Homo sapiens: one gene and its partners. The protein of the gene in region 1 interacts with the protein of each later gene in a pairwise test. Each region holds a gene or a part of one and is shown in the gene's direction. Other genes may lie near its edges.

Region 1 (7,032 bases):
ATACAGTTAGTTGAGGATTTTAATTGAATCCAGTTTAGCAGTACATTTGTTGAAAGATATTTTTTAAAATGAACTTAAAGCATTAAGACAGGAAAACAGGAGAAATTGATTTTTAAAAATTAATATTTATTTTGGCCAGTCACGGTGGCTCATGCCTGTAATCCCAGTGCTTTGGGAGGCTGAGGTGGACAGATCACTTGAGCTCAGGATTTCAAGACCAGCCTGGGCAACATGGTGAAGCCTGAAATTCTGTCTCTACAAAAAATACAAAACCTTAGCCTGGCATGGTGGCAGCACATCTATAGTCCCAGCTATTCGGGAGGCTGAGGTAGGAGAATCGCTTGAGCCTGGGAGGTGGAGGTTGCAGTGAGCCAAGATCGTGCCACTGCACTCCAGCCTGGGTGACAGTGAGACCCTGCCTCAAATAATAACAATAATATTTATTTTCTATCTTCTGGAGTATATTTGAAGTTGACTGGAGGAGGATAAGAATGATGTGCTGGTAGACATGATAAATATGTGTCCATTTAGTCCATTTTATGTGATAGACTTTGTAAGAGCAAACGATGTTTTCTTTTAAATAGTGACTTCTCTGAAATATTTTACACTAATCATCTCACTTTTGTTGAAACTTCCTTTGGCTTCTATAGGATCACTTTCACCGGCATATATTTCTGACCTTCTCTTTCTTCTTATGGGGTCTTCCTTCTCTTTTCCTCTCTTAAATATTTCTATTCCCAAGGTTCTTTTCTTCATCTCTTCTTATGCTATGTATTCTACCTAGGTTACTTCATCTACCCATATTTTCAGTTTCTACCTGTAGAATAAGGATGCTCCTATTTATTTTTATCACCAGATTACTTTGCACCTTAAACCAAACAAGTATAAATGGAACTTATCTTATTCCTGATTACTCCCTTACCACCCACAATCTGATCCTCTGGCTTCACTACTAATCTTATCTAAAGGCCAAGCCAGACAGCTGAATGTTAATGGTAAAGCAATTAATATACAGGTTGAGCATCCCTAATCAGAAACCCAAAATAGAAAATGTTCTAAAATTAGAAACTTTTTTAGCACCAGTGTTGTGCCACAAGCGGAAAATTCCATACCTGACTTCCTGACAGGTTGCAATTAAAATGCAATCAAAACTTTATTTCATGCACAAAATTATTAAAGATACTATATAAAATTATCTTTAGGCTGTGTGTGTATGATGTATATGAAACATAAATGAATTTCATGTTTAGACTTGGGCCCTGTCCCCAAGATATCTCATTATGTATATGCCGATATTCCAAAATCCAAAACAATCCAAAATCTGAAACACTTCTGCTCCAAAGCATTGTGGATAAGGAATACTCAACCTGTAATGTATAGTCCAAACAGGCTGTTTAGAGAGTAAAATGGAGCTTTGGTAATAACTACTACAAGAGATTAGGTATAATCAGAACCATCGTATGCAAACAAGAATACAAGGTCACCTAAGTCTTAGGATAACTTCTTTTCCTTTATATTCCATATCCATTTGCTCAGAGCACTGTCTTCTACTGCTTTACTCTCAACTTGATCCCCATACCCTCATTTTTTCCTCAAGTAAATTACTCAGATAAATCAAATAGTCTTCTTGATGCTTCTCTACCCTTCTCCATTCCAGCTTGGCAGAGTGATGTTTTAAAAATGCATGTTTGCTCAAGTCATACTCTAAGTCATTCAGTGATCATCCATTGCAGTCATGGTAAAATCCAAGTTTCTTGTGTGACATATAAGACCAGTTGATAACAGTGCAGAAACAAGGAGACTTCACCTTGTCTCAACCATCTCTAAATAGAGGCTATACACTAGCAATAAAGAAAATCATCTTGCTCTCATTTTATTGTTTTGGCTTAAGCTTTTCTACTATATTTTCTTTTCACCTGGACCAAGTACTCTTTTGTTTTTAAGAGACTGGCGTGATCATAGCTCCTCCCACCTTAGCTTCCCAATAAATTTGAGGACTGCAGGCACATGCCACCACACCCGGCTAATTTGTTTTTATTTTAATAGTGATAGGCTCTCACTATGTTGCCCAGGCTGGTCTTGAACTCCTGGCCTCAAGCAGTCCTTCTGCACCATCCTCCAAAAGTGCTGGGATTACAGGCATGAGCCAGCATGCCCAGCCATTTTGTTTTTCTTACAGAGACAGGGTCTCACTCTGTTACCCAGGCTGGAGTGCAGTGGCATGATCATAGCTCACTGCAGCCTCGAACTCCTGGTCTCAAGTGATCTTCCTGCCTCAGCCTTCCAAGTAGCTAGGACTATAGGTGTGTGCCACCATGCTCAGCTGATTGACTGATTGAGATGGGGGTCTTGCTGTGTTACCCAGTCTAGTCTCAAACTCCTGACCTCAAGTGATCCTCCTGTCTCAGCCTCCCAAAGCATGAGTGAGCCATAGTACTCAGGGTCTACTTTTATTTTTTTTGAGATGGAGTCTCTCTGTGTCATCCAGGCTGGAGTGCAGTGGCGCAATCTTGGCTCACTGCAACCTGCACCTCCCAGGTTCAAGCAATTCTCCTGCCTCAGCGTCCTGAACAGATGGGACTACAGGCATGTGCCACTACACCTGGCTAATTTTTGTATTTTTAGTACAGATGGGGTTTCAACATGTTGGCCGGGCTGGACTTGAACTCCTGACCTCAGGTGATCCACCTGCCTTGGCCTTCCAAAATGCTGGGATTACAGGTGTGAGCTACCATGCCCGGCCCAGTCTCTACTATTTTAATACCTCTCCCTCCTTCCTGCTCTGCCTGATTTCCTACAGCAAAACTGTCCCTCCAGGAATCTACACAACTCCCATGCTGCATTCTTTTATCATGTGTTTGTCATTGTTTTATAATTAGCAGTTTATCTCTTTATGTTTTAATTTTTGTATCGCTAAGAACGTATTTAAATGTTTGCCGAATAAGTTAGTCCTTTTTTTTTGAGACGGAGTTTCACTCTGTCACCCAGGCTGGAGTACAGTGGCACGATCTTGGCTCACTGCAACCTCCCCCTCCTGGGTTCAAGCGATTCTCCTGCCTCAGCCTCCTGAGTCGCTGGGATTACAGGTGTGCACCACCATGCCTGGCTAATTTTTGTATTTTTAGTACAGACAGGGTTTCACCATGTTGGTCAGGCTGGTCTCGAACTCCCAACCTCAGGTGATCTGCCCGCCTCGGCCTCCCAAAGTGCTGAGTGTGAGCCACCACGGTTTAGATGCCATCCCTGTACCACCACCACCCCCTAACCGTGTTTCAAGTTGGTTGACCATGGACAAATGATTGGTAATTGACATTGTATAGAAAAGCAAACTTCTGATTTATTTGTTATTAGTTCACCACACTAAAAACTTAATTAGCCATCGGAGTTGCAATTACATGACTCCAAATTTAAGTTTCCTTTGAATATAGCCACATTAAACCAATTAAAAATCTGAAGTACATATTGAATGCCTTTAAAAATGAGAAAATGGACCTAATTGTTACACCCGGTTAGAAAAATACAGTATATTTGCCTTTCTGAACCGTACAGTAGAAACCTACAGTGGTTGCTTTATTAAGTGCTACCTCACCCTTAGAGGTATTAATGCTTCACAGGATTCTTGGCCCAGCTTTAAAAATGAATGATTCATTTTGATTCAGTAGGTATTTAGTAAGGACTAAGCATGAGCTACATACTTTTGTTCTCTAATTCTTTTAATGGAGGAATAATAATCACAAACATTTTTACATAAAAACAATTTAAAAAATATTGGGGCAGTAGATATATGGCCAGATAAGATTTTATTATTTTTCACTGAAAAGATGTATAAAATAAACTGTTTTGATATTCTAAACACTAGTTAAGTACATATGGTTTGAAGGAAATAATGAGAGGATGATTATTCTCTTATATTCTAATATCTATGTGGTCTGGAATAGATGTTCTTAACTTTTTGGGGGTCCTATACCCCCGATGATTTGAAAACATATACTTTCTGTTTTATAATTCACTTTAAAGTCCATATGAAAATGGTTTCGTAGAGCTTACAGAATAAATACTCCTTGGCGTAATGTCATCTTCCAACATTTCTAATGTTGGAAGTGTCCAATGTCTAATGTCTTGCGGTGTCCCAGTGCTTATTCCGAGTGTATTCAGGCTAATGGGAAAACAAACATCATGCAAACAACTCTAACATGATATATTGTACTGTAATCGTATTTTCAATAAAATTGTATACAACTACATAAAGAGGAGATTAATTATTACTAATGAGGTAGGTTTTTCTAAGGAATTGTTATTTGAGCTGAACCTTTAAGAATGAGGTAATGAAGTAGCATCAAGACTTTTGGCACAGCAACAAGGAACCTTTCCCTCCCCTGCCATTTGCTGAGTATTCTGATTGTACCTTTGATAGCAATTTCTGCCCTACTTTCTAGCTGTTTATGCATTTTTTTTCCTTATCATCTCTTGGAGGATTGAATTTTTCCAAGGCTTGGGTACATCTCATTCAATTTCATATGTGCATATATGTCCTATGTCTTGTACATATAAGCCACCTATTAAATGTTTGATGGGTTAAATCCAATTGAACATGAGTCCTTTCCTCCATAGCTTACGTGTTATTGTAGCTAAACGACTTCTGAATTGCCTACTGGAATAACTAGGAAGTAGACTAAGCCTTGAAAGGAAGGGCTTGGTTAAGTTGGTATCATATAAAATTTCAAATCCCTAATTTTTCTATATAATCATTAAAAGTAGAGGTAGGAAAAATGACATCACATTGTGGCGTCTAGAAGGAAAAACTTTGTGTCATGATAATATTTAGGCATTATCCCTTTACATAAAGTGCCTCAAGCAGTGATCCTGAATGAAACACTGCCTATGAGTCTAAATGGGTATCATAATCTCAAGGAAACCAAATCTATAGATTGGTTTTTTTCTACCCTATTGATAAAAAAAATTATATGTTTAGACATATGATCTGACAGAATGGCTTTTAGTAATGTTATTTGCTTTGAGTTTTTAAAACTGACTTCAGAAGAAATGCTATTGAGGCACAATAGCGATTTAAAAAGGGAATTGAGTGGAACATTATACCTATTATATCAAACTATTTTTATTGCTTTGGAAGAGAACTATTAAGGCAAAGGCAGTCATCATATTAAATATCTCAAAACTATTTTTCCCAATAGATTTTAATCATTTTATTGTTTTCTACCACTTTGTATGTCTTTATCATTTTTTAAGTATCATCAAATTTACTAATATACCCTGAAGAAAAACCTCCTGTACATTGGGGAAAAAGTAATCCTATTTCCTAATAGGAAAAGTGTAAGAAAATCTGAATGTAAAGATATGAAGCTACCCTGATAATTATTTTTAGTTTAACGAATAGAAATGCAAACAGGTTACTTTCAGTTGACCTTTTACCAATTCTCACTTAATATTTTTATACCCCAGAAAGTTCTATTTTATTATAAAGAAACTGGCTACAGCCTTTCACTATTATATGAAAGCTTAAAACGAACTCAGTTAAATCACACACTCTCACAAACAGCTTGGAACCTCGTTAATGCTACTGACAAAGACTAATTTTGTATTTAATATTGATCATTTATAACCCCTTGCTTGTTTTCCAGGGGATGTACGTATTTTTGCATGCAGTGAAAGGAACACCTTTCGAAACTCCTGACCAGGGTAAAGCAAGGCTCCTAACTCATTGGGAACAACTGGACTATGGAGTACAGTTTACATCTTCACGGAAGTTTTTCACAATTTCTCCAATAATTCTGTAAGTGGCAGAAATTTTTAGGTATGAGGAGGATTGGATAAGAGGAAGATATCTTTTCATCAGATTGAATTGGAATTAGAAACATATTTTGTTGCAAACTTCTATCAATAAGTAGCACCTCGGATAGAACATAAAATATAGACAAAATTTTTAACAAGTTGATAATAAACTAATTTTCACTTCAGTCAGTACATATACGGAGACAATATTACATGCTAATCAGTGCACCTAGACATTTAGGATATACAGGTCAAATGTATTCCAGCTCCCGTCCTTAGGTTTCATATAAGGACACAAAATACATAATCATATTCTATATTGCACTGTCAGATTAATCTCCTTAAGCAATGATTTAGATAATGAGAAGAATTTCACTGGCCACCTATCCTATTAAGATATTCAGACTCCTTGGGAAAGAGTATGGTTTCGAAAAAAGTAGGTCAGGCTTTCATTATAGGATAGACCTGGGTGGAGTCCTATATATATCACTCAGCCAGCTTGGTTTGCTCATATATAAAATTCTAGCTAGTGATACCTAATTCAATCCTAATGCTGTAAGAAATAAATGAGATAATAATCTACCTGGATAGCATGTAACCTGTATCTGGTATCTAATTTCTTTCTCCTATCTGATGTTCTGGGCCTTCCAGAAAATAGTTCTTACCTCCTTTTCCCTTGATGTAAATATTTTATCCCCACCCAACTCCTACCTGGCCTTCTAAGCAGCATTTCTTGAATATTTCATGTGTAGTCCTATTTCTGTCTTTGTTCAAATCAGTTCAAATCATATCTCCTACCTGAAATGCCTCCTCCTTTTTTCCCCAGCTTTACTGAGGTATAATTGACAAATAAAAAAATGTATATATGTTTTATTTTGTCTCTCCAAAGAATTTATAAGTGCATGGATTGCTTTGAATCCCACAGTAAGTACAGTGGCCTACACATAATAGAGGTATTGCTCATATATCTTAATACTCTGTACCATCTAGCCTATACATAATAATGTCCATGATAGAGTCAGTGCAGCCTGGCATAGCACAAAAGACTTCTTGGAGGTGTTGGAAATCCTTATGTTAGAACTTAAGAGAGACTAGGTTTTAGATATTTAAGTAAGGGAAGGCATTTTTAAAGTGAAAGGAATAAACTGATCATAAAATAATGGGGTTCTTTTTCCTTAATTTATAGCCCTTTGAGGAAATTTTGAATTGATTTAGTCCCATATAATATTAACCTCAAAGAAA
Region 2 (7,444 bases), on another chromosome or scaffold:
GCCCAGTGAGCAAATTCAGTTCAACTGGGGTGAGTGGAAAGGGCTCTGGGTGCGGAGCCGGGAGGCCCTGGTTTCAGTCCTATCTGCCTCATGAGGCTGGGTGACTTAAGGCAAGCCTCTGATGGCCCCAGGCCTTGGTTTTCTATAAAACGAGAAGAGGCAAGTCATATAAACTCTCTGAGCCTTGGTTTTCTCATCTGCAGATTAGGGATGATAATAATATCATGTTGATTCTAAGGTGTCATCAATTACATGATGCACCACTATTTTATGTACTTCAGGAAGGAAAAAACATCATCCATTAAACTATGACAGACCATCGATCATAAGACACATTCTGATTTCAGAGATGTTAAAACATTGAGGAAATGTGCATCTCAGAATCAGTGAAAGACGATACTTATCTCACAAGCTTGTTCCAAGAATTAAACAAGATGATAAAAAGTATTTAGTGCCTGGCACAAAGCAAGTACTAATAAATGTCCGGTATTTTTATGGTTCAGGGTTGGGTGGAAAGGGATCACAGGCCAAAGGGGTGGAAAGGAGAGCCCTAAACTAAGTGAGAGCTGGGGTTCTGAAACCCACCCTGCTCCTGGTAGAGTGCCACCTCAGGCTCCATGTCCAGCCCCAGTGGGGGGCACAGGGAAAGCAGCCATGCAGCCCAATTTAGGGAGCTGCTAGAGAACAGAGGGCCCCGTCTGCACCCCGGAAGTCAGTCTAATCTCCAGGATGAATATGTTTTCATTTCTCAGAAGTTCCTGTTAGAGTGTGCCAAAGCATTTTTCCCTTTACAACCCAGGCAAACAAGACAAGTTTACTTTGGGTGACCTTATTATCACCACCCAGGGCCTGCCTGCTGAGTGTAAACACCAGCTTGCACCCTCCTGGAGGCTCTGGGCAGAAGCCTGGATAATCAAAGTACCAGGCCTCCTGAGCGGGGAGGCCCTTCACACTCCCCCGACCCCTACCCCTGCTCCCCAGGCCCTGTCCTGGAAAGGGCACATTGGAAGATCCTTGGAGAGGATGAAACCCTAGAGGGCATCAACACCTCGCCCATTTCATAGCTATGGAAACGGAGACCCAACGAAGGGCAGTGACTCTACACACACACACACACACACACACACACACACACACACACACACACCCCATTCTACTCACAGCTCAGCCTGGCAGGAGCCTCTCTCTCTGCCTGATCCTCAGTGTCTGGAACAGGCAAGAAGCTTATCTCTGTCCTCTTTCTCCTGTGCGTCATTGACTGCGTTGGGATGCCTTTATGCATGAAGCTTTTGCTTCACAGTTGGAACAGCTCATGGAGAGCAGCAACCAGGTGTTCCTGAGCCCGTCACAGAAGGAGCTGCCATCAGTGCCTCTCGTGACCTGCAGTATTTGGGCCTGTGGAGGTGGTGTTTGCAGAGCCAACGTTGGCCTCCATCCCCTAACTCCTTCAGATGTAAAGGAGGGGCCTTGGTGGGGGGTTGGGTTGTGGGACCAGGCCCAAGAACTGGGAGGGAGGGAGCAAACCCTCCCTGCTGGGTTAGAAGGCAGACTTAAGACCCAGGGAGACATCTCATTTCATCTCCTGGAAAATCTTTAATAGACAAGAGAGAAGGGATGTGTGACTGACCACACCCTACAGAAGGCTTTAGGTGGGCACAGTTCTTTCCAGTCCTGGCACAGAATAGAGCCTGGGCTTCAGTGTGGCCATAAGTACGGGGTTTGTGTAGGGCATTGGGGTTTCGCCCTCATCATCTCACTCCTGCGCCACTGCCTGTTCTTCCCAGTCCGGCCTTCCTCCTCTTTCTCTTCTACTTGCTGTTCCCTCTGCCTAGAATGTTTTCCCTGCATTTTGCCCCATAAATGACCCCAGTTCTTGATTCAGTTCTCAGTTCACATGTGGCCTCTTCAGAGAGGCCTTCCTTACCCAAAGAGTCACATCACACTATTTTATTTTTTCATAGTCCTTACCACTCTCTGAAATCATCTTCTTAACATTTTTTTACCCACCCACCTCTGTACAAACACGTTTACTCTGGGATCCAGGTTCTTAATCACTGCTGTGTCTCCAGTGCCTAGTCTCGGAACCATTCACAGTAGGTACTCAATAATGCTTGTAGAATGTGTGAATAAATCTGCGATCATCCTCATCTCTGCTGGACTTTGCCATCCTCTTCATTCCAGAAAGAAAATGATCACACTCCTCTGTGTGCCCGGCTCTACACTGCCTGGTCTCCCTCCTCCCCCTGCCACCCCTTTCCCCAGGATTTCTCTTGGGAGATTCTGCCTCTCAGACTCCGCAGAAGCTGCTGGAACCAGAATGGCTCCCCAGGATTATTTTCAATGGTTTCCTGGGGTGTTCACCTGGGTAAGAATAAGGAAAGAGAGGACACTCTAATCCTACTTATCTAAAACTATATAATCTTCCCCAATCACTTAAATGGTACCTGTGTCTCTAATTACAGAGCAGGCTGGGAGGAACACAGGCACAATTTCCAGCCAACCTCAGGCGGGGGGCCACTTTTTCTCCTCCTGGGGGCCTGTAGGGACTATAGCTTAGTAGCCAGGACTCCAGACACCTGCTGCTGGAGCTCACTCACGATAGCCTGTTCACCCAGCCAGAGACCCCTCCCCTCCCCCTGAGAAGTATCAGCCACATCCCAGTGTTTGAATGGTCCCCATTTGGCCAGATGTGACGCATTTGGGGAAGACACCCATGGTCCCAGCACCCTAATTCTACCCGCCACTGTTGTGAAAGTGAATTGATTTCTTTTTGGCCCAGCCTTACTTCTCGGAGTTGCATGGCTGGTGAACTGGTCCCCAGAGCATGGGTTATAATCCTACTTTCTCAGGAGCAAATTCTACAGGAGGCCTGGGAGCTAACAGTCATGTGACAGCCTGGAAGGTCAGAACTTCACTCTCCAGAACTATGTCAACTAGATCATAAGGTGGGGAAAAGCCACGTGACTGCCTGCCTGCCAGGGAAGCAAACAACTGCTGTCTCAGCCTTGGTATGAACCCTTCTCCCACCTGGTGCTGAGAGCAATTTTGGTGACATCCATGGCTTAGCTGCAATGACATCTCTACCTCTTAAAGGCCTTTGGTTCCTGAGCTAATTAAACGTCCCAGACAGAAAGGACATGCTTAATCTTATTAATAACTTCTGGTCAGGAAACAGTGTGCCCAGCCCTCTGAGGGAGTGCCTTTCTGAACCACCTCCATTTGTTCAGGTGCTTGGCGATTGCTATCAGCCCTTTCAAGAGATTAAGTTTGTACGCAGGAGCAAGCCACTTAGGTAATGGATCCCGGGGCCCTGGGAGTGTCTGGTGACTGTGGAGTGTGCAGCCAGCCAGCACCTTGGCTCATTCAGATTCCAGAACCACTGTTTTCCAACTTCCTGCTCTTCAGAACCATTGGGGGGTAGGGAGGGACTTGACTATCGAGGAGAAGAGGGGGACTCTCCTATCTCTGGCTGTTCACCCAGCCCTTTCACACAGAGGGAAGCTGGGGACTGTCCTTGCCCTGAGGAGCCTCACAGCTCAGTGGGGTCACAGATACAAACAATGTGAGCAAATAAGGACAATACCACATTAGACTGGAAACAGTGGAGGTGAGCACATGATGCCCTGTGGGTGTATACCGTTGGTAACTGCTCCAGCCTGGGGGTTCAGGGAAGGCTTCCTGGAAGAAGAAACAGGTGAGATGAGAAATGAGAGTTACAAGCTGAAAATCGGCTGGGCATGGTGGCTCACACCTGTAATCCCAGCACTTTGGGAGGCCAAGGAGGCCGGATCACCTGAGGTTAGGAGTTCCAGAGGAGCCTGGCCAACATGGTGAAACCCCGTCCCTACTAAAAATACAAAAATTAGCTGGGCGTGGTGGGGCGCGCCTGTAATTCCAGGTGCTCAGGAGGCTGAGGCAGGAGAATCGTTTGAAACTGGGAGGCGGAGGTTGCAGTGAGCCGAGAACACACCATTGCACCCCAGCCCGGGCAAAAAGAGCGAAACTCCGTGTCAAAAAAATAGTAATAATAATAAATAAAATTTTTAAAAAGCTGAAAATCTCCCCCGTTGAGGGGAGATCTGTTGAGGGGACTGTGAAATGGAATTCCCTGACTGGGTTTCGTGCAGGCTTTAGTATAAGGCTGGAAGGATGGAAATAGCTCCCTCATCAATTTACGGGACAGTGGTTGGTGAAGCCTTAAAATGCCAATGTTCCAGGAACACTGTTATCGGTTCCAGGACTATTGTTGCTTTAAGCCCCCACCTTGAGCATTCAGAGAAGAGAGATTACTAAGACGAAGTTGCAGATGTCTCTTTAAAAAAGGAGAGAGGATTCCTCGAGCCACGCCCTCTTCTCATTAATATTAAATTATTGTGAATATTGATGTGGGGGCGTGGCGCCTTGGCCAGCTGGGCTAGCCAGCCAGGGGTTCCCGGTTTCACAGAGAGGAAAGTGACAGAAGACGTGCGGAGGGAGACGCAGAGACAGAGGAGAGGCCGGCAGCCACCCAGTCTCGGGGGAGCACTTAGCTCCCCCGCCCCGGCTCCCACCCTGTCCGGGGGGCTCCTGAAGCCCTCAGCCCCAACCCCGGGCTCCCCATGGAAGCCAGCTGTGCCCCAGGAGGAGCAGGAGGAGGTGGAGTCGGCTGAATGCCCACGGTGCGCCCGGGGCCCCTGAGCCCATCCCGCTCCTAGCCGCTGCCCTAAGGCCCCCGCGCGCCCCGCGCCCCCCACCCGGGGCCGCGCCGCCTCCGTCCGCCCCTCCCCCGGGGCTTCGCCCCGGACCTGCCCCCCGCCCGTTTGCCAGCGCTCAGGCAGGAGCTCTGGACTGGGCGCGCCGCCGCCCTGGAGTGAGGGAAGCCCAGTGGAAGGGGGTCCCGGGAGCCGGCTGCGATGGACGCCGTCTTGGAACCCTTCCCGGCCGACAGGCTGTTCCCCGGATCCAGCTTCCTGGACTTGGGGGATCTGAACGAGTCGGACTTCCTCAACAATGCGGTAAGATGAAGGGTCTCCGTTCCCGTTCCACCCCTCGGCACCCGTCCTCGCGGCGCGCCTGGGCCCCTAGAAGGACCCGACTACACATCACTGGGCAGGAGCCGGGGAGAGGGTTCAGCGCAGGGTCTCCAGGAGCGACATGTGTTTGGAGCTAAGCGCCCCTCCTGGGGGCTCAATCTTTGAATACACTGGCCTCCACCTTCTAGGGGGAAGGGGCCATCGAGGTATCGGGTCCGTCCGATCCTCGGATCTGAGCTCAAGAGACACCAATCCCGCCCTCCACCCACGTCTTCTAGCCGTCCCCAACCCACCCCAGGTTCCAGGACCAGACTGGGCGCAAAGTGGCAGCGCCCTTTCCTGCGCCTCCCTTGGGGCTTCGGTGGCTCATAGGCTGGATCTCCGCTGGGGGGCGCACCGGGGAACGTTCAGAGGGCCTGAGACCCGACCCCTCGGGGAAGCCAGGCCCAGAAATTTCAGGGTGCTACCCTGGCAGCCCCAGGGAATCAGGCCCAGAGACCCCCCACCCCAGGGAGGGACCTGAGGCTGGGGGCTGGGAAGAGGCGGTCAGGGCAACATAGGGTGATGGCTCAGGAGGAGGGAGCCATTTCTCTCCATCTGCCTCTAGATCTCTGCTCTGTCCCTCTGTTCCTGGAGTCTGGCTGACTTTCTCCCTCTCCCTATGTCTTCTTGACTAGGTCCGACTGTGAGCTTGTCTTTCTCCTCTTTCTCACTCTTCCCCTCCCTCCCTAAGGAAACGTGGCTTCTCTCTCTTCTTCCCTCCCTCCCTCTCTCAGGCTCAGCCCTAAGGCCTTGATGGGGGAGGGGCACGGACTTAGAATGGGAGAAAATATTTGGGTTCAGAAGGGCCTGCCCAGATGAAATGTGGATTGTTTGGGGAGTCTAGTGGGAGCCCCCTCTTCAGTGAACCACCAGTTGCGTGTGCATGCCTGTTCACACGCCACACACACACACACACCCTGTGATCAAGCACTTGAGACTCTTTACCTGCTGACCTCTACCTCCCAGGACCAAGATAAACTTGGCCAGGCAAGAGTCAAGTCCTTAGAGGACTTGAGCATCTTGGACTTCCACCTAAACTGTCCCAGGCCACTAGATTGATGGTGAGGAACCAGGCCAAGGGACAGGAGCCGGAGTCAAGGAGGCATGGGGGCTGAGGTCTCCCTGTTCTCCATTAAGCAGCACATCCTGGTCACCCTGCGCTCTGAGGAAGGCCCCTGTCCCAGGCAGAGAGAGCATAATTCAGCAGACAAGACAAGGGTATAAGGGCAGAGGGCTTGCATTGACTGCAGCGAGACTTGGTTTCTAGTCCTGGCTCTGCTTCCCCTGTGAGCTTGGCCCCTACCACTGGCTCTCCTCCCTGAGCCTCAGTTTCTTTGTCTGTAAAATGGGGGAGAGGTTGGATCAGGTCTTCCTATAGATGGTTCTGGCACAGATCCCAGGAATAAAGCAGCAGGGATCGGGGGATCCACACCTCCTCTTGAAGCTGGTAAAAGACACTAGTCAGAGGGAAAGAGGTTTGTCAGAGCTCGGACCCTTGAAGTCAAGCAGGGCAGTAGAGCCCTGCAGTAAGCTTCTCTCGGCCCTTGGCAGCTCTGAGTTGGGCTTTCTTCTGAATGAACTCGGCCGCCCGAAGCCTCTTCCTGCTGCTCCATTCAGCCCTGCATCCCCAGCTGCTTATCTGGGCCTTGGTCCAGCACAGGAAAAGAGGCACGACCAGACAGTGGGATCCAGCACTAGGACACTGGGGAGGAAAAGCCCTGCTGGGGAGGCTCCTGATCTCGCACCTGGGGCAGCGCCAGGAGAGGCAGCGGGAGAAGATGGGGTGCCTAAGGAAAGAGAGAAAGGACTCTTGGGCTGGGAATCAGGAGATTTAATTCTGTCTCTGTTTCTGCCACCAGCCAGCGGGACAATTCAGAAAAGTGACTTTTCTTTTCTTGTTTTTTTTTTTGTTTTTTGTTTTTTGTTTTTTTTCAGACGGAGTCTTGCTCTGTCGCCCAGGCTGGAGTGCAGTGGCGCGATCTCGGCTCACTGCAAGCTCCGCCTCCCGGGTTCACGCCATTCTCCTGTCTCAGCGTCCCGAGTAGCTGGGACTACAGGCACCCGCCACCACGCCCGGCTAATTTTTTTTTATATTTTTAGTAGAGACGGGGTTTCACCGTGTTAGCCAGGATGGTCTTGATCTCCTGACCTCGTGATCCACCCACCTCGGCCTCCCAAAGTGCTGGGATTACAGGCTTGAGCCACTGCGCCCGGCCAAAAGTGACTTTTCTTCTTCTGGGCTTTGACTTCCTCATCTGAAAAATGGGAATATTAGAACTATAGCATTACTGTAAGCATTTCGAGAGAAAATTAAAGTGAAGGTTATGTAGCACAATGCCTGGCATGTAACGTTCATCGTTGGCTTGATCCATAGAGACTGGATGGGCGTG
Region 3 (7,186 bases), on another chromosome or scaffold:
CCTGAGTAGCTGGGATTACAGTCATGCACCACCACACCTGGCTAATTTTGTATTTTTAATAGAGACGGGGTTTCTCCATGTTGGTCAGGCTGATCTTGAACTCCCGACCTCAGGTGATCTGCTGGCCTCAGCCTTCCAAAGTGCTGGGATTATAGGCGTGAGCCACTGAGCCTGGCTTTTTTTTTTTTTTTTTTTAAAGATGGAGTTTCTCTCTTGTAGCCCAGGCTGGAGTGAGGTGGCCCTGTCTTGGCTCACTACAATCTCCGCCTCCCAGGTTCAAGTGATTATCCTGCCTCAGCCTCTTGAGTAGCTGGGACTACAGGTGCCCACCACCACGCCTGGTTAATTTTTGTATTTTTAGGAGAGACGGGGTTTCACCATGTTGGCCAGGCTAGTCTCAAAGTCCCAACCTCAGGTGATCCGCCTGTCTCGGCCTCCCAAAGTGCTGGGATTACAGACGTGAGCCACCACGCTCAGCCATCGGTCTGATCTTTCTAACACACACTTTCCTCCTGTCCTCCCCTGCTCAGGAACCTGCCTTGGCTTCCTGCTCAACAAACCCATGAGCCTCTGCCCACCATGAAGGTTCCTGTGACCTGGTCCCACCGTACACACCCAAGCCCTGTGGGCAGTCAGGGTCCCTCAACATCTCTGTGAGTGGAGTCGAGAGAGTCTAAGACAGTCAGATGGGGGCCGGGTGGGGGACAGTGCTCAGGGTGTCAGTGCAAGTAATGGGGTCTCGGGGACAGCACACTGAATGGCAAAACAGGTGTTGTCAAGCTGTGGGGACCCCTTTTCTCCTCTTCCCCCATGGGCTTGAGTAAATGAAATCCTTTTGTGGCCTTGTGTGGGTTGGTGACAGTGTAAGGGACAGGGGATGGAAACGGGGGAAATGATAGATCCTTGGGCAGTGGTGCTTGCTGTGTGACCCTGGGCAGGTCAAATCCCTTCTCTGAGTCTCCAGGTTTTCATTTGTCCTCCAGAGCCCCTCTCAGCTCTCGCATATCACAAAAACCCTTCGTTTCTCTCTCTTCAGCGAGCACCTGTGAGCAGCTGTGCACAGAGGAGTGGGGTCTGGAGCCTGGATAACATGGGTGTGAATTCTGGCTCAGTCCCTTTCCATGGTGTGAGATTTCAAGCAAGTCAGCTGATTTCCCTGAGCTTCAATTTCTCCTTCTGTGAAGCAGATTTAAAAACCCCACTTCATGGGTTCCTGATTCTGCCAGCCGGGTGAAACCAGCTAGTAACATTCAGCCACGTTACTTAGCCTATTTGTGCCTCGGTTTTTCTTATTTATAAAATGAGTATAATCGTGATACCTACCTGACAGGGTTTGTTGTTTGTTTTTTCCAGCTTAGGCTGGAGTGCAGTAGTGCGATCTTGAGTCACTGCAACCTCAGCCTCCTAGGTTCAATTAATTCTCCTGCCTCAGCCTTCCAAGTAGCTGGGACTACAGGAGCACGCCCCCACCCCTGACTAATTTTCATATTTTTAGTAGAGATGGGTTTCACCATGTTCACCAGACTGGTCTCGAACTCCTGACCTCAATGATCTGCCGTCCTCGGCCTCCCAAAGTGTTGGGATTACTACAGGCATGAGCCACCGCATCCTACCCTGACAGGATTATTTCTCATGAGAGTGAAATGCATTAGTATATGTAAGTCCATTTGTATAGTGTGTCCAGCACATGATTATGATTTGCCTTGGTCTATGGGAATATATGAAAACAGAAGTGGCTCAGAGAGGGGTGTTTTGTGCAAGAGGAGGAGGTGGATCTTTGGAGAGAACTGTCTGTGGGTGATGGTTCCTCACCCATCCTCAGTCTTGGAGCCCCTGTGCCCCATATCTTACCTGCAGCCTCTGACCTGGCCTCCTCACCCCCAGCAATAGGTGACTTACCTGCTTTTCACCTCCTCAAATATGCTCTTAGCTTAGCAGGCACCTCCATCATTCTGGGGAGGCCTGTCCTTCTTTTCCAAATGGGAAACGGGCCCTTATCCTGTGCTTGGGAGAGGTTGCCAGGGAAAGTGGGTTGAGTCTCCCAGACACGCTGGCACTCTGCTGCCCAGTAGAAAGATAAATATCACTTTGACAGCTGCTGCCCCCAGGGGGGAGCTCTTCTGAGGGGTGGGAGGCACTTTCCTCCCTTGGCCCGAGTGCCTGGCTTTCTGTGTGTGCCTGCTGGGTCACTTGCCCTGGGGCTTGTCCACGTCCAGAGTGCTGCTTAGCAACCCAGTGGAATTGGGTGACTGTGTCAACAGCTCAGGACCAAAGGCTGCAAGAGGCAAGGTCTACTCACTCTGCCAAGACCAGGGATGGTGACACTCCTCAGCTGCCAGCCTCTTGCCCTCCGTGCTGAGCCTTGCTGTCAGCGCAGACCTCTGACATCTCTTCTCTGAGATTTCCCAAGCACAGGCATTGGGACCAGGAGTCTCCATACGGGAGACCATCCCAGCTGAATGAGCTTTGGGCGGGCCCAGGTAATGTTTCCCAGCAAATGGGGGTAGACAGAGGCCTGTGATGCTGAGGTCAGGTGCGTGGCCCCAGAAGGCAGCCAGCAGGGAAGGGACAGTTCTGCAGCACGCACCAAAGGACCCGAGGCTCACGTGTGCAGTGACCTCCTGAGTCATGGATGTCCCTTTCAGCTGCTCCCCTATTCAGTCACAGCTTTCCTCCTTCAGGGAGACCCAGGACACTTTTCACCTAGAGAACCATGTCTGTGCCTAAAGATGGACAGTGGCTGGGGCCTTCCTTAGGAGTTCCTCTAGCCCTTGGCCTTTTTGGTTACTCCAATGTGTGTGTGTAAGGGGGGACAGGTAAATGTGAGGGTTGGTTAAGAGAGGAGAGGGAGACATGGGGCCTCGGGGAAGTTTCTCCTGTGGGCTGGTTTCACTGCTGGCTCTCACACCCAGCAATACCAATAAAACTGATGACAGTAATTAAGACCATATAATCACCGTGTGTTTATTTATCCCCCAGAAGCCTCCTTTCCCTGGCCCCATGATTACCTATTCCATCCTTATGATAGCTGGTGGGGGTTAACTGTGGCTCCAATAAAAAGCAGTAACTGCCTGTGTTTCCACCCCACATGCCCGGACAGCTTTGCTCCCACCCTCTGCAAGGTGGGGGGACACTATTTTCAGAGGGAACAACAGAGGCAGTAAGCTGAAGATGTCAAAAAGAATGAAACCTCACAGGGCAAGTAGTAGAAGCAGCAACGTTTGCCTTCTTTTTTAGAGCCTTCCCCCTTCTTCCTGGCATCTGCCTCCCTCCCAGAGGAACTTATCCGGTTCCATGGCCCTCTGCAGGGCCACTCAGCCTGCAGCTGCTGATCTCTCAGAAGACTGATCAAGCCAAGCATGTAGCCACCAGCCAGCAATAAATACCACTGGGTGATACCAGGAAAGTTACTTTTCACCACTGAGCATCCTATTTCCTACATGGTTAAAAGAAGTTTGCAAAGACTAAGACCTTGCGTGCAAACGTGCATTACAAAATGGCAATGGTTGATACTACTATTAAGGGCCCAGGGTTATTTGTGTACTTGGCTCAGAGGAATAGGTGGAATTTCAAACTTCTGCTGAAGGAGTGTGGGAGCTGAGAGCTCTACCCAGAATGCCTCAAATCATCGCGGTCAGCCTGCCCCGGAGTCAGGGATCTGGAAAGGCATCCCAGAGAGAAGGGAACCCCTGAAACCTGGTGGGGCAAAAAGTCCCTCAGGTTCCCTCTCCCCCCACACCTCCCCCCTTTCCCTCCTGGACCCACTGGTGTGAGACCCGGACTTGCTGGCGCTCAGCCAAGCTTCCTTCCAGCTCCTGACTGAGCCTGCAGAGGAGATCCTTCCCTCTACCCCACCAACCGCATCTCATGCCTTTACCCGGTTCACAGAGGGGAAAATGAGGCGAGAGGGAAAGACACCGGGAAAAGCCAGTGAAGGGTCGCTTAAACTCTGGAGTCCAGATTTTCTTTGTGTGCCGACCCCCGCACTCCCCCTGCTTTTTTGTTACAGCTTCCCACACGCTAATCTTTCCGATTGGGAAGGTGGCTCCACTGTGGGCCCCACGCGCGAGTCCCGCGGCACATCGCCCCTTTAAGGGGCCGGCCTCTCGCCTCCCTGACCTCGCCCCGCCCCCTCCGGGGCTACACTGCGCCTGCGTGGCAAGCCGGAGCCCTGGGGTTGGGCAGCACTCGGTTCCGTGCAACTTTCAAGTGAGTTGCGAACTCCGCCCTGTAGGCCGGTGCTGGTGGCCCGGCGCGCTGGAACCGCGGCGACCCGCTCCAGCGCGGGACCAGCAGCAAGGGCCGAGCGCCAGGTTCTCCGCGGCAGAAAGGGCGGGTGGGAGCTGTAACTGCCCCGGCCGCGGGGCGCGCCCGCTCCCAAGTCGGCTTCCTCCCCGCCGGGGCCGCTTTGCCTCGGGTCTCCCCATTCTCCAGGTCCCCTGAACTGCACAGTCGGAGGCCGTGGGCGGCGGGCTCTGCCTCCGCCGAGGGACAGCCGGATCGCCCCTCTGCTTCCCGCAACTGCCCTGATCACCCCCCGTCCCAGCCCTTGAGTGAACGTCCTTCTGAGCGGCTTCCTGGGGTCCTCCCCACGTCCCAAAGGCCGGCAAGATGGTGTCCTGGATGATCTGTCGCCTGGTGGTGTGAGTATGGCCGCCCTCAGACCTCCTCTACCCCGGGGTGCCGTCCCGCCCCTGTGGTGGAAGCTGTGGACGTCTAGTGGGAGGAGGAACTTTCTGAGCTCCACCCTCCAGCACTCCATGCAAGGGTTAACGGACCTGTGGGCTTGCACGCGGTGTCTGGGGCACCGCAGGCTACCCGCCCCACCAAGCCTCGTTGGCTGAGAACGACCCCTGCCGCACGCCACACACACTGCAAACAGATGCGTGGAGCCGAGGGCCACAGGCCTACCTTGCTGCCCCTTGGCAAACACAAGGTGATATGGCACGTTGTGGGCGGAGAATCCAGGTGCCTGCTTGCCATCTGAGCAGTCACATGACTCACCATCCTATTCCTCACCTTTGAGTATGCCAACATCTGGCTCACATAGCCCTATCTGCAACCCAGCAGTGTCAGGTCTGGTGACCCTGGGCCTGATTGCATGCCCATGGGAGGGGACAGTCTGGTGTTCTCACCCACTTCGTGGAGTGGCTGTCCTCTCACTCCATCATGCACCCATGGGCCACCGGTGCAGGCCTGGGCAGGCTTGGGATGTTTGTAAACAGCAGGGTGGGGAGGTGGCCTCCAGGGCTCTGACTCAGGCACGGGTTGTACAAGCCAAGCGAGAAAAACAGGGCGGGTACTGCCACCTTGCACCCCAGTGGGGGGAAATGGCCACTTGGCAAGGTGGGAGTGGGGCATGGTGCCCCTCACACTCCCCATGGCTGCTCTTCCAGGCTGGTGTTTGGGATGCTGTGTCCAGCTTATGCTTCCTATAAGGCTGTGAAGACCAAGAACATTCGTGAATATGTGAGCGTGGGGGTTTGGGTGTGTTTAATAGGACTTGGTGAGGTGGGGAGGGTCTCAGTTGGCCTCTCCCTCCTCCAGGGGCAAGGCTGTGTGGCACATCCTGAGTGGAGTGGGGAGGGAGAGAGAATGGGCCCTGTTCAAGAGGGTGTAGATAGAGGGCAGGCCATCGGGGTGCCTGTGGAAGATCTGGTGGGTGAAGCTTGTTGGAGGCGGGCATAGGAATGAGCAGCAGTTTCTCAGAGCTCCTGTCCAGCCATGTGTGGGGGAAAGCAGCTATGCAGCCGGACAGGCTCCCTGGAATCTCTGGGCTGGGCTGGCCTGGGTTGGGAGTTGGTGCTGCAGGCCCCATGCTGACCTCTGGGCGCTCACCCCACAGGTGCGGTGGATGATGTACTGGATTGTTTTTGCACTCTTCATGGCAGCAGAGATCGTTACAGACATTTTTATCTCCTGGTATGGACGCAGGGTCCGCAAGCCATGGGTCAGGGGTGGCCCCCCCAGCCCTGCTCCTTGGCTCACCCTGCCCCTTGTGCTGTGACAGGTTCCCTTTCTACTATGAGATCAAGATGGCCTTCGTGCTGTGGCTGCTCTCACCCTACACCAAGGGCGCCAGCCTGCTTTACCGCAAGTTTGTCCACCCGTCCCTGTCCCGCCATGAGAAGGTACCCCAGGGGGAAGCGGGAAGGGAGGCTTAGGGGTGGGTATGAGGGAAAGAGCCCTGGACCTGGGATTTAGGATGCTGGGGACACCGGGGTTCTATCCCAGTCCTGCTGCTATTGAGGGGCAGGACCTTGACAGGGCCCAGCCTACCTCATCTTCTGGGATAATCAGGTGGGGGTACACATGAATGACCTTTGAGGATGGAAATTGGTTTGGGGGTAGTGGTGGCGGCAGCTGGAGCATGGCCACTCATGGAGGTGTGAGCGGGTGGCAGCCCTGCTCTTGGTCTGTGTTTGTGGCCCGGATTTGTGGCTCTGGGCACCAGGTGGGGCTGGGCTGGGCTGGGTGGCGCCACAACCAGTGGCTTCTCAGAATCTGCAGAGGAAGAGGGACTCTGGCTGTCCACCTGAGCTCTCCTCCCCATTGGGTCCACAGGAGATCGACGCGTACATCGTGCAGGCCAAGGAGCGCAGCTACGAGACCGTGCTCAGCTTCGGGAAGCGGGGCCTCAACATTGCCGCCTCCGCTGCTGTGCAGGCTGCCACCAAGGTGCTCTGGGCCCCCAGCCCTCCAGCAGCCCCCATCCCACCCCTAAGGCCCTTTGGGCTCATTCAGCTCCTCTGCCAGGGAGCCCAGAGATGGCAGCCGGGGAGCAGGGGTGAGAAGGTGACGGGGGGGTATTGGCAGAAGCGTGGAGCTGGAGTCAGACCTTCCTTCCTGGCTCTGGCACTGAGCGTAAGCAGCGGCTCCTGCTCTCTGACTTTGGTTTCCTGTTGGTGCCACATTGGCGCGGGGCCAGAAGCTTGCTGAGCAGTTTTCACTTCTGCGTCTCAGCTCCGGTGATTAGCTGGTTGGCCAATATCCCTGGGCAGCCTCCCCGCTGAAGCCTCTTCCCCCTCGCAGAGTCAGGGGGCGCTGGCCGGCAGGCTGCGGAGCTTCTCCATGCAGGACCTGCGCTCCATCTCTGACGCACCTGCCCCTGCCTACCATGACCCCCTCTACCTGGAGGACCAGGTGTCCCACCGGAGGCCACCCATTGGTGAGCGGGCAGAGGGGC
Region 4 (4,441 bases), on another chromosome or scaffold:
CCTCCCCAGTAGCTGGGACTATACTATAGGTGCACACCTTTATGCCTGGCTAATATTTTCACTTTTTTGTAGAGACAAGGTCTTGCTATGTTGCTCAGGCTGTTCTTTAACTCCTGGGCTCAAGCAATCCTTCCACCTCAGCCTCCCAAAATTCTGGGATGACAGGTGCGCACCACCGTGCCCAGCCTTATTTAACTTTTTTGTTGCATGTATATTCACGTGGGTCAAAAAACCATTTAAAGAGATTTGCAGTGAAAATCTGCTTTCTATCCACTAAGTTTCCCCAAACGCTGTTAGGCACTGTTGATAGTTGTTTATGTTTCTTTTCAGTTTATTTACACACGTAAGTCTCAATTTGCTCAATTGTAAAAGGAGGATAATAGTAATAACCAACTATATGTAAGATACTTAGAACAGTGTTTGGCAAACAGTGGTTGCCATGTAACTGTTCACTATTATTATCATTATTTGCACTTTTCCCTTTTTACACAAATGGTAATATGCTATATATACTTCTAATCTTTTCTCTTTTTCTTTCTTTCCTTACAAGAAAACCAAAGAAGCCATTTTCTTTTTTGAGACGGGGTCTCGCTCTGTCACCCAGGCTAGAGTGCAGTGGCATGATTATAGCTCACTGCAACCTTGAACTCCTGGGCAATCAAGCAATCCTCCTGCCTCAGCCTCCCTAGTAGCTGGGATTATAGGCATGTGCCACCCCACCAAGTTATTTTTTTTTTAACAACTTTTTTTTTTAAGAGATGGCGTCTTGCTTTGTTGCCCAGGCTGTTCTCCAACTCCTGGCTTCAAGTGATCTGCCCACCTCAGCCTCCCAAAGTGCTAGGATTACAAGCATGAGCCACCGCACCCAGCTGCTTTTTTTAATGAGGTCACTCCTCATGATTTCATAAAGAGCTTTCAAAGCATGGACATTGTACAGTTGCTTGACTTGTGTAGTATTGATGGGCATTTTCCCTCAATCTTCTGCCATTATAAACAAGGCCGGGCAGAGTGGCTCATGCCTGTAATCCCAGCACTTTGTGAGGCGAAGGCGGGCAGATCACCTGAGGTCAGGAGTTTGAGACCAGTCTGGCCAACATAGTGAAACCCCGTCTCTACTAAAAGTCTAAAAATTAGCTGGGCGTGGTGGCAGGTGCCTGTAATCCCAGCTACTCAGGAGGCTGAGGCAGGAGAATCTCTGGGACCTGGGAGGCGGAGGTTGTGGTGAGCTGAGATTGCGCCACTGCACACTCCAGCCTGAGCGATAAGAGCAAGGCTCCGTCTCAAAAAAAAAAAAAAAAAAAAAAAACATTACAGGCATGAGCCATTGTGCCCGGCTGGTCAGATGTTTCTTAAATTTTAGTCATTCCAGTAGATGTGAGTGATATCTCATTATGGTTTTAATTTGCTTTTCCTTAGTGACTAATGGAAGTTTGAACATCTTTCATATACTTATTGGCCATTTAGAAATCCTCTTTGTGAAGAACCTATTCAAGTCTTCTGCCTATTTTATATTGGATGATCTTTTTCTTTCTTTCTTTTTTTTTTTTTTTTTTGAGACAGGGTCTTACCCTGTTGTCCAGGCTGAGCACTGTGGTGCTATCATAGCTCACTGCAGCCTCAACCTCCTGGGCTCAAGACATCCTCCCACTGCAGCCTGGGACTGTAGGCACGTGCCACCACGTCCAGCTAATTTTTGTATGTTTTATAGAGTTGGGGGTCTCACTATATTGTTCAGACTGGTCTTGAACTCCTTTATGCAAGCCATCATCCCACCTCAGCCTCCCAAAGTGTTGGGATTACAGGCATGAGCCATCGTGCCCGGCGGTCTTTTTCTTTCTGATTCTCTGCTCACTCTTGTATTCACTCATCTGTTCACCTACATTCTCTCTCTCTCATTGGCTACTTCACTCACTCCATCATCTACACCTGCTTCCTTTTATACCACACACACTTCTTGAGTACCAATCACAGCCACACTGTTTTGTGTCAGGCTTTACACATATTACCTTGTTTTAGAGAAATAAACCACTAGAATCCAAACAGTTACCCCATTTCACGGATGAGGAAGCAGACGCATGGGAAGGTTATGAAGTCTGTCTTCTTGCAGGGACCCCCAGCTCTCACAAGTGTGTGTTCCTTTCACTGCCTTTATTCTTCATATCTCTCTCTTCTTTTCTTCAGGGAAAGAGTATGCCAAGGGAGACAGCCGATACATCCTGTAAGTGTTTGCCTCTGTCAATGGAGACTGGCATTGGTTTTCGGGGGGTGGTGAGTTGGGGAGCACTAATGGGCTAACCTGTAGGAAGAGCACACCGATACCAGTGTCCCCTCATGCTTTCTCCTGCAGGGGTGACAACTTCACAGTGTGCATGGAAACCATCACAGCTTGCCTGTGGGGACCACTCAGCCTGTGGGTGGTGATCGCCTTTCTCCGCCAGCATCCCCTCCGCTTCATTCTACAGCTTGTGGTCTCTGTGGGTAAGGAAAGGGCACTAGAGGGGCACTGGGCACTAGAGGGGTTGATGGGGGATCCACAGACACAGATGTATCCCTGTGGGTGGGATCTCTCAACGGTGCCCTTCCAGGGGTAAGTCAGACTGAATGACAAACCCCCTGAGGCTCTGGAAAGGTCATGCCCTTCTCTGAGCCTGCACTCTCAGGTGGGGAGGGTTCATTTTTCTTCCTCCTCCTCCTTCTCCATCACAAAGTCTCCTGTGAAGGTTACATGAGGTGGCCCAGGGTGGCAAGAAGCCCCTGGAACCTCCAGGATCAGGGCTCTGAGATCCCTTCATGTAAGATTCTGTCATATTTTTTTTAAAACAGGGTCTGGCTCTGTCACCCAGGCCAGAGTGCTATGGTGTGATCTCGGCTCACTGCAACCTCCACCTCCCAGACTCAAGCGATCTTCCTGCCTCAGTCTCCTGAGTAGCTGGGACTACAGGCATGTGCCACCGTGCCTGGCTAACTTTTGTATTTTTAGTAGAGATGGGGTTTCGCCATGTTGCCCAGGCTGGTCTCAAGCTCCTGAGCTCAAACAGTCCTCCTGGCTTGGCCTCCCGAAGTACTGGGATTACAGGTGTGAGCCACTGTGCCCGGCCTCAGTCATCTTGTGTTATTAAATTGTTAGCTTTCTTTAGTTCTAGCGATATGAGTTATCTTTAGTCCCAGAATCCTAAGCTGTCTTGGATTTGAGGATTTTGAACTTCCTTAAATCTGAAGGTGTGAGCTCTCCTGAGTTCTGAAATTCTCAGCTCTCTGGTGTCTGGAATCTCACTTTTCTGATTTCTCAGATTTTCAGCTCTGTGATTTCAGAATACTTAGCTCTGAGACCTTGAATGATGACTTGGAAAGTGCTTTGGAATAGAGAATTGGCGAAAGTGTCCCCTTCCTCACTGGGGCTTCTCCTTCCCCTCCTGCCACCCACAGGCCAGATCTATGGGGATGTGCTCTACTTCCTGACAGAGCACCGCGACGGATTCCAGCACGGAGAGCTGGGCCACCCTCTCTACTTCTGGTTTTACTTTGTCTTCATGAATGCCCTGTGGCTGGTGCTGCCTGGAGTCCTTGTGCTTGATGCTGTGAAGCACCTCACTCATGCCCAGAGCACGCTGGATGCCAAGGCCACAAAAGCCAAGAGCAAGAAGAACTGAGGAGTGGTGGACCAGGCTCGAACACTGGCCGAGGAGGAGCTCTCTGCCTGCCAGAAGAGTCTAGTCCTGCTCCCACAGTTTGGAGGGACAAAGCTAATTGATCTGTCACACTCAGGCTCATGGGCAGGCACAAGAAGGGGAATAAAGGGGCTGTGTGAAGGCACTGCTGGGAGCCATTAGAACACAGATACAAGAGAAGCCAGGAGGTCTATGATGGTGACGATTTTTAAAATCAGGAAATAAAAGATCTTGACTCTAACACTGAGAGATCCTTAATTACTAACCCCAGAGATGCGCTATGACTGACCCCACAGATCCCACCATCATTCACTTATTCCAGACCCCCATCAGCATCTAAAGACCTCCCACCTCTGACCTCACAAACCCCTATCACTGACCCCCCGCCAGACCCCATAACTCACTACACAGACCCTATCACTGGCCCCACAGTCCCCTGGTCTTAACTCGAGCTGCCATAACAGAATGCCACAGACTAGGCTTAAACCACCGAAGTTCATTTTCTCACAGTTCTGGAGTCCAAGATCAAGGTGTCAGCAGGTTTGACTTCTCCTGAGGCCCCTGTCCGTAGCTTGCAGGTGGCCACCTTCTCAGTGTCCTCACATGGTCTCTATGAACTAGCGTCCCTGTCCCTGGTGTCTCTCTGTGTGTCCAAATTTCCTTTTTTTTTTTTTTTTTTTGAGACAGGGCCTCGCTCTGTGTCAGGCTGGAGTGCAGTGGTATGATCATGGTTCACTGCAGCCTCTACCTCCCTGGCTCCAGCGATCCTCCTG

Evidence for each region.
Region 2: the proteins of ORMDL1 (region 1) and CREB3L1 interact in binary tests that used the Homo sapiens proteins (3 or more experiments, as listed by UniProt).
Region 3: the proteins of ORMDL1 (region 1) and REEP4 interact in binary tests that used the Homo sapiens proteins (3 or more experiments, as listed by UniProt).
Region 4: the proteins of ORMDL1 (region 1) and EBP interact in binary tests that used the Homo sapiens proteins (3 or more experiments, as listed by UniProt).

The regions. Positions count from the first base shown.
Region 1 is NC_000002.12:189,774,324-189,781,355, reverse strand, and holds part of ORMDL1 (ORM1-like protein 1), read left to right. Parts: intron 1-5,639; coding exon 5,640-5,791; intron 5,792-7,032. UniProt on the Homo sapiens protein: Plays an essential role in the homeostatic regulation of sphingolipid de novo biosynthesis by modulating the activity of the serine palmitoyltransferase (SPT) in response to ceramide levels.
Region 2 is NC_000011.10:46,273,220-46,280,663, forward strand, and holds the start of CREB3L1 (cyclic AMP-responsive element-binding protein 3-like protein 1), read left to right. Parts: upstream 1-4,442; 5' UTR 4,443-4,892; coding exon 4,893-4,994; intron 4,995-7,444.
Region 3 is NC_000008.11:22,138,908-22,146,093, reverse strand, and holds the start of REEP4 (receptor expression-enhancing protein 4), read left to right. Parts: upstream 1-4,186; 5' UTR 4,187-4,611; coding exon 4,612-4,643; intron 4,644-5,396; coding exon 5,397-5,469; intron 5,470-5,845; coding exon 5,846-5,922; intron 5,923-6,010; coding exon 6,011-6,131; intron 6,132-6,564; coding exon 6,565-6,678; intron 6,679-7,032; coding exon 7,033-7,168; intron 7,169-7,186. UniProt on the Homo sapiens protein: Microtubule-binding protein required to ensure proper cell division and nuclear envelope reassembly by sequestering the endoplasmic reticulum away from chromosomes during mitosis.
Region 4 is NC_000023.11:48,524,808-48,529,248, forward strand, and holds the end of EBP (3-beta-hydroxysteroid-Delta(8),Delta(7)-isomerase), read left to right. Parts: intron 1-2,181; coding exon 2,182-2,218; intron 2,219-2,347; coding exon 2,348-2,478; intron 2,479-3,426; coding exon 3,427-3,650; 3' UTR 3,651-3,909; downstream 3,910-4,441. UniProt on the Homo sapiens protein: Isomerase that catalyzes the conversion of Delta(8)-sterols to their corresponding Delta(7)-isomers a catalytic step in the postlanosterol biosynthesis of cholesterol.